Homo sapiens: one gene and its partner. The protein of the gene in region 1 purifies or fractionates together with the protein of each later gene. This does not show direct contact. Each region holds a gene or a part of one and is shown on either strand. Other genes may lie near its edges. The genes, in order: SDHC and DHODH.

The links.
Region 2: the proteins of SDHC (region 1) and DHODH purify together in Homo sapiens (affinity purification with mass spectrometry; one large-scale study listed by BioGRID and IntAct). This does not show direct contact.

What each region holds. Positions count from the first base shown.
Region 1 is NC_000001.11:161,352,169-161,355,983, forward strand, and holds part of SDHC (succinate dehydrogenase cytochrome b560 subunit, mitochondrial isoform 1 precursor), read left to right. Parts: intron 1-3,815. UniProt on the Homo sapiens protein: Membrane-anchoring subunit of succinate dehydrogenase (SDH) that is involved in complex II of the mitochondrial electron transport chain and is responsible for transferring electrons from succinate to ubiquinone (coenzyme Q).
Region 2 is NC_000016.10:72,007,217-72,011,635, forward strand, and holds the start of DHODH (dihydroorotate dehydrogenase (quinone), mitochondrial), read left to right. Parts: upstream 1-1,527; 5' UTR 1,528-1,548; coding exon 1,549-1,569; exon of another isoform or gene 1,570-1,693; intron 1,694-4,419. UniProt on the Homo sapiens protein: Catalyzes the conversion of dihydroorotate to orotate with quinone as electron acceptor. Required for UMP biosynthesis via de novo pathway.

The DNA of each region.
Region 1 (3,815 bases):
ATATACTGAACATCAGAGGAGAATTCAGAAAATCTCATATTTAATTCTCATATGTTTTTCACTTGTAGTGATGAAAGCTTTGGCTAAAGTAGCTTTCAATTGAATTAACTGATTAATATTCCTGTTTGAAGAGGTAGAGCCTTTTTTGAAAATTAGTGAGGCAGCCAGCCAAAATGATCTCTCTCCTGATTATATCTGGCTTGGAATCTGGTAATGATCCCAGATCTCCTTGACCTCCCAGAGATTTGTATAAAAAAAAATTTTTCCTGATTACAAGAACATATTACCAAGAATGAAAATATTATACAAATGTATACTTAGAAAAGTTGCCCATAATCCCGCCAGTCAGAAATAACCAGTATTCTATGTATATCCAGAGACTGTATCATTTTATGTTTTTTGTTTAAGGACTCAACCCATCAGAAAAATACCTAATTCAAATACAACTATTGCTATAGCCATTATTTACTAAACATTTACATAATTATTTAACCCTCATAATAATCTGAGAAACAGGAGTATCTTCATTTAAGAGCTTAAGAAACTGAAGTGGCCGAGGTGGGTGGGAGGCCAAGGCGAGTGGATCACCTGAGGTCAGGAGTTTGAGACCAGCCTGGCTAATGTAGTGAAACCTCGTCTCTACTAAAAATACAAAAAAATTAGCCGGGCGTGGTGGCACACACCCGTAGTCCCAGCTACTCGGGAGGCTGAGGCAGGAGAATTGCTTGAACCTGGGAGGCGGAGGTTGCAGTCAGCTGAGATCGTGCCACCGCACTCCAGTCTGGGCGACAGAGCGAGACTCCGTCTCAAAGAAAAAAAAAGAAAAAAGAAAAAATTGGTGTGGGGGTATGTAGTAGTAGAATGATTTTGAGAACATTTGACTTATTTAGAGGCAGTCTTCTCTTTTTGAATTGATTAAACTAATTGACATAATTCTGTATTATTCATAGGAAAACAAAAGCTGAAGACACTGTTATTCACATCCTAGTATTTCCAAGAGTTTTGACTCTCGTAGGTCATTTGAGAGTAGGTGGTGTTATCCTAGGATAACACCATATCAGGGTCTGGTTTTCTGTTGGTTAATATTGGTGTGGGTGGCCATCCCTGGGACTCAGCTGTGAGCCTGTTGTCCTATTTGATGCATAGATCAGGGATGAGTTTGCCCAGATATCTAAGGCATATATTTGGCTATTGAAGTTTCAGAGCTTTGTGCTGGCACTGAAATTCAAAAGATAGTTTTGAATTTCCTATCAAAACTACCAAAAGAGGGGTTCCTGCAGTCTTCTATAATAGCTTATCATCTATCCAGAGTGTCAAAGACTCTGAACCCTCTTGAGTCATATCTTCCTCCCAAATGTTCATCAAACTGTTTGAGTTCAGGTTTACCTCAGTGTCTTCAGTAATTATTTTCATGGTGCTCCTAAGTCAAGGTAAATACCTAACACTTTTGTTTTATTAGTTTGTTAGATCCAAACAGCTTATTTATTTCTTAGCCATTGAGTAGACATTTTTTAAAAAAAATCATCCACATAGGCTGGGCACAGTGGCTGACAACTATAATCCCAGTGCTTTGGGAGGCCAAGGCAGAAGGATCGCTTGAGCCCAGGAGTTAGAGACCAGCCTGAGCAACATAGCAAGACCCCGTCTCTATGAAAAACAAAAGCAAAAACAAAATCATCCACATAAATGGAAAGAAAAAAATATTTTTATTTCATTCTTAAATAATCATACTTTTTTGTTTGTTTGTTTTTGAAACAAGATCTCACTCTGTTACCTGGGCTGGAGTGCAGTAGCACAATCACAGCTCACTTTGTGCCTGGCTAATATTTTTTATTTTTGTTTTTATTTTTTGTCTTATTTTTAGTAGAGACAGGGTCTCATTATGTTGCCCAGGCTGGTCTTGAATTCCTGGGCCCGAGTAATCCTCCCACCTCAGCCTCCTAAATTGCTAGGATTACAGGCATGAGCCACCATACCCAGCCAATCATAATTACTTACTAATAGGATGTATATGCTGTTGGATATTATACAACTCCTCCAACCTTAGAAATCAGATTGGATACTGCCACCCTCATTTCTTGTTCCACAGTGATTTTCACACAGTACTTCATTTTTGCTGAAAACCCAGCTTTGCAAAGATGTGATCATTGAAAGAAATCTAACATCTAATGTTGAAACTGAACTACCTTGAGCTAGTAGTGGTTCACATGATGACCAACAGATGTTAAGTATCACTGTGTTTCATTTGAATATGTAAAATATCCTGTAGGACCTGTGAGTTTGCTTTGGTACCCCAGGGCAGCTTGGTGTAGTTTGGAAACCACAGTTCTAGCAATGATCCCAAACTATCAAATCAGGGTCTCTGGGAGTTGTGATGTGGGTACTCTTTTTTGCTTCCCCAAAATATTTTTTGGTGATTATGGGAAACAACTGGCCTCTTCTTTTTTTCTTTTTTTTTTTTTAATTCCCATTTTACAGATGATGTCTTATTTCTTTGTGTGTGTGTGTGTGTGTGTGTGTGTGTGTGTGTGTGTGTGTGTGTTTTGTCATTTGAGATGGAGCCTCACGCCTCACTCTGTTGCCCAGGCTGGAGTGCAGTGGTGCGATCTCAGCTTCCTGCAACCTCCACCTCCCAGGTTCAAGAGTTTCTCCTGCCTCAGCCTCCTGAGTAGCTGGGACTACAGGTGTGCGCCACCACAACTGGCTCATTTTTGTATTTTTAGTAGAGATGGGGTTTCACCATGTTGCCCAGGCTGGTCTTGAACTCCTCACCACAAATAATCTGCCCACCTTGGCCTCCCAAAGTGTTGGGATTACAGGCATGAGCCACCGTGCCAGCCAAGATAACATCTTATTTCTAATTTGAGTTTCATATTTGTTATACTTGATTTCTCAGTCATTGGTGGTCGATAGCCACTGAGCTCCAACAGATAATGCAGCCCTGTCAGACATTAAAATATTCATACTTTTTCTTTCACATAGGGAAATAATCTTCCAAGTATATACACATAGCAGTTACATTATATCATTATGGTTTTGATTTGCATTTGTCTAATGGCTAATGATGTTAAGCACCTGTTCATGCACTGATTGGCCATTTATTTATCGTCCTTGGAAAGATGTCTATTCAGATCCATTTGTCATTTTATTGATTGAGTTGTAAGAGTTTTTTATGTATTCTGGATAAAAGTCCTCCATGATTTGCAAATATTTTCTCCCATTCCTTTGAGTTGTCTTTTCACTTTCTTGATGGTATTATTTGCAGCACAAAAGTTAGTAATTTTGATGAAATCCAATTCATCTGTTTTTTCTTTTGTCATTTATGATTTTGGTGTCATCTGTGAAACCACTGCCTAATCCAAGATCATGAAGATTTATTTCTATGCTTTCTACTAAGAGTTTTATAGTTTTAGTTCTAGCATTTAGGTCTCTAATTCATTTTAATTTAAATTTTTGTGTAATAGAGATTTGAATGATTTAAAATTTTTCCTCTCTTCAGAGGTAGCAACACTAGAAGATAAAGATAAAAAAAGGGCCAGGCGCAGTGGCTCATGCTGGTAATCCCAGCGCTTTGGGAGGCTGAGGTGGGCGAATCACTTGAGGCCAGGAGTTTGAGACCAGCCTGGCCAACATGGCAAAACCCTGTCTCTACTAAAAATGCAAAAATTAGCGAGGCATGGTGGCATGCATCTATAAGGCCAGCTACCTGGGAGGCTGAGGCACAAGAATGGCTTGAACCCAGGAGGCGGAGGTTGCAGTGAGCTGAGATCACGCTTACTGCACTCTAGCCTGGGCAACAGAGCGAGACTCTGTCT
Region 2 (4,419 bases), on another chromosome or scaffold:
TAGCTTCATACAACTGATGAAGCTCAAAAATGGCTTGACTCAAGATATTTCATACACCTTTCTTTTGCTCTAATTTCTGCTACGACAATAACCCAGCTATTTCAGCTGATGGCGGGAACACTGCAACTGGACAAAAATGACACGGATGGGTGTAGAGCCTCCAAACAATAAGTATCTGATTAATGCTGTTGACACCTAAGTCTACAGAGGCTATTCTCCAACGGCCAGGACATCATTAGGTAAGACATTTCAAAATTCTTCGTGAGGGCACGATTGCTTCAGAGGACTACAAAGTGACACATTAGGTCGTCATAAATCACCGCAGTACCATCCTGGCTAACACGGTGAAACCCCGTCTCTAAAATACAAAACAATGAGCCGGGCATGGTTGCGGGCGCCTGTAGTCCCAGCTACTCGGGAGGCTGACGCAGGAGAATGGCGTGAACCCGGGAGGCGGAGCTTGTAGTGAGCCGAGATCGCGCCACTGCACTGCAGCCTGGGCAACAGAGCAAGACTCTGTCAAAAAAAAAAAAAAAAAAAAAAAAAAATCACCGCAGTAAACCACACTCCAACGGGCCTGCACACTCAGGGTCTTGATTAGAAACAGTATTTAAAAAAATACCTCCACATCTGTTGCACCACAATGCCAAGGTATAACCAGGGCCACTTTCTCCAGGAGGCACAACAGGCGCAGGGCCAGGGAAGGGCCTCTGACACTTTTAGGATCTCAAGAAATTTTTTTTTTTTGGTTATTTTTCTTTGTTTGTTTTTGAGACAGAGTCTTGCTTTGTCGCCCAGGCTGGAGTGCAGTGGTGCTATCTCGGCTCACTGCAACCTCCACCTTCTGGGTTCAAGCGATTCTCCTGCCTCAGCCTCCCGAGTACCTGGGATTACAGGCGCCTGCCACTACGCCCGGCTAATTTTTGTATTTTATTTTATTTTTTAGTAGACACGGGGTTTTGGGTGTTGACCAGGTCTCGAACTCCTGACCTCAAGTGATCTGCCTGCCTCAGCCTCCCAAAGTGCTGGGACTACAGGCGTGAGCCACCATGCCCGGCCTCAAGAAAATGTTTTAATTTCCTTAAAAAACCTTAAGAAAAATCAACTTTTAAGTTGAAAAAGTTTATATATTAACATATTCATCTTTATATCAACACAGCAGTAAAATTTATTTTTTAAAGTGATAAAAACTGTACAAATATTTCTGGTGTGAAACACAGTGTTTTGATGCTCGCGGACTCTTGGATTCGAGGCTGCGGTAGTACGGACAAACACCGTGCAGCGGCATCTCATCTCCGCCAACAGCCGGCGATCAAGCGGGCAGGCTGGGAGAGGGCGGGCGGAAGAGGCGTGGCCGCCGCTACTGCGCACGTGCACCCAACCAGAACCTGGGGGTGGTGCCGGGCCTTCCCCGCTGCGCGGAGGCGTCCTCTCAACCCTTCTGCCCGGCGACTGGTGGGTTGGCGGCTAAGGGGCGGAGACAAGAGGGGCCGCCACCATCTCCTCCAATGGAAGGGAGACAGGGGCGGGCTTAATGACGGAAGGAGCATGGCGTGGAGACACCTGAAAGTGAGTCCCGCGAGTGAGCAGTGTGGATGGGGGACCAGGGACCGGGGAGGGCGAGAACGGAGAGTCAGGCCGGGCGAGGCATGGACCGAAGGCGGCTCCGGGAGTGTGGGCCCCCCTGGGACGTGTGCGTGTTTCCGGGGTCTCCTGCAAATGCTCGTGCGTGTGCATTTGCACGTGGACTCGGTCAGGCGTGTGCAGACAGCGCCTGCAGGTCTGGGTGGGTGCTGATCTGAGTGTCTGCGCCTGGGCCATGTTTTTGAGCCTGGCACAGGGGTGCTTAGTGAACACATGACCGCCTAGCGTTGTGTGCCGGATCCAACGGGGAATGAAACTAGAGTAGGACATGCTCCCAACCCTTTTAGGTAAAGTTTTGTTAGGGGCGGGGGTCTCTGTGAAAAGTTCTTAGCTGTATCCCCGTATGTAATAGGTGTTCAGAGGCCGGGCGCGGTGGCTCACGCCTGTAATCCCAGCACTTTGGGAGGCCGAGGCGGGTGGATCATGAGGTCAGGAGATCGAGACCATCCTGGCTAACAAGGTGAAACCCCGTCTCTACTAAAAATACAAAAAATTAGCCGGGCGCGGTGGCGGGCGCCTGTAGTCCCAGCTACTCGGGAGGCTGAGGCAGGAGAATGGCGTGAACCCGGGAAGCGGAGCTTGCAGTGAGCCGAGATTGCGCCACTGCAGTCCGCAGTCCGGCCTGGGCGACAGAGCGAGACTCCGTCTCAAAAAAAAAAAAAAAAAAAAAAAAAATAGGTGTTCAGATATTTGTTGATTGACATGGTGGGGGGGAGTACAGTCTCCAAGGGAGGCAATGAATAACCTTGACTTTCTTTTTATATGTTTATTTGAGACGGAGTCTTGGGCTGTCGCCCAGGCTGGAGTGCAGTGGCGCGATCTTGGCTCACTGCAACCTCCGCCTCCCGGGTTCAACCGATTTTCCTGCCTCGGCCTCCTGCGTAGCTGAGATTACAGGCGCGCGCCACCACGACTGGCTAATTTTGGTATTTTTAGTAGAGACTGCAGTTTCACCATGTTGGTCAGGCTGGTCTCGAACTCCTCACCTCGTGAGCCTCCCAAAGTGCTGGGATTACTGGCGTGAGCCACCGCGCTCGGCCTGAGTCTCTTTTTAAAATAAATAAATGGAGAGAGATGGGATCTCACTGTGTTGCCCAGGCTGGTCTAGAACTATTGGCCTCAAGGGATCTTCCCGCCTCAGCCTCCCAAAGTGGTGGGATTACAGGCGTGGGCTACCGCGCCCAGCCAATGAATACTTGATCTACATGTCTTTAGCAGTTTGGAAGGATCCTTAAAAGCAAATCTAATCATGTCATTTCCTGGCTTAGGGAACAAAACCCAAATCTTTATTTTGGCCAAGACTCCTGCTCCTTTCTCCTGCCTCGTCTTAAGCCTTACTTTCCCTCACTCCTCTGTTCCAAACTTTCTCCCTTTTTCATTCTCTTCTGCTACTGAGAGAGCCTTTACACTTTTTCCTCTCCGTACTGCCTTCTGGTTAACTATTTTTTTAAATAATTGAACCAGAATAGGTTCAGAGAGACCCCCATCAACTCGTTTATCCCTTGAGTATCAGCTTTAAGTCATTTCCTTAAGGAAGCCTTTCCTTACCTCTAAGATTAGGTTGAATACTTCCATTACCTTATACTTTTTATCCTTCATCACAGTTGCTATGACTACATATTTGCATGATCATTAATTTCTGTCTGTCGCTTCATAAGATCACACTCTCCATGAGGGTAGGGGCAAGATCTGTTTTGTCATCTTTGCTCAATCAGTATTTGATGAATGACTGAACTAATGAATGAATAACTCAGCATGTGGCAGTGATAGAGAAAAGCATTGTGAACCACTTTTGATCCAATAAGATCTGAAGCTTCTGTTTTATATTTTACACCCCCGTTACCTTGAAATGGAATATATGTATAATGTCTTTGTATGTATACATTTTTGAGAGAGTCTGACTCTGTCGCCCAGGTGGAGTGCAGTGGTGTCATCCCGGCTCACTGCAGCCTGGACCTCCTGGGCTCAAGGGATCCACCCACTTCTGCCTCCCAAGTAGCTGAGACCGCAGGCGCACCACCATGCCTGGCTAATTTTTTATATTTTGTAGAGACGGGGTCTCACTATGTTCCCCAGGCTGGTCTCAAGCGCCTGAGCTCAAGCAGTCCTCCCACTTCAGCCTCCCAAAGTGCCGGGATTACAAGCATGAGCCACCAAGTCCAGCTATGTGCAATTTTTAAAAGCCAGCATAATTAATACCCTAACTGGAATATAAAGGAGAAAATGTAAAAGTAGTTTATATTAATAATAAAATTACATGTATTTCAGTATGTAAATATTGCTATGACTCCCCTAGTGAGATAGTTGTGTTTAAGTCTCTACTTAGAAATGCAGGTACACAGGTGTGTTACATATCAGGCACCCCAGGAAAGCACTGTACCATTCCCGATGAGATTTTCTGAAATGGTGAACAATTCTTGGGAATGTTCTATGTGAAACTGTACAGTTGTCCCTCAATTTACAAGATATTTGTACTGTATGTGAAAACCATGTAGAGGCTGGGCACGGTGGCTCATGCCTGTAATCCCAGCACTTTGGGAGGCCAAAGCAGGAGTACTGCTTGAGCCTAAGGGTTCAAGACCAGCCTGGGCAACATAAAGAGGCTCTATCTCTTCAAAAAATTGGCTGGGCTTGGTGGCATGTGCCTGTGGTCCCAGTTACTTGGGGAGGCTGAGGAGGGGAGGATTGCTTGAGACCAGGAGGTCAGGAAAGACAGTTTGTGTTTATGTGGTAAAATATAGTTTGGCTTAGATAATATGAACGGATAATTTTTAC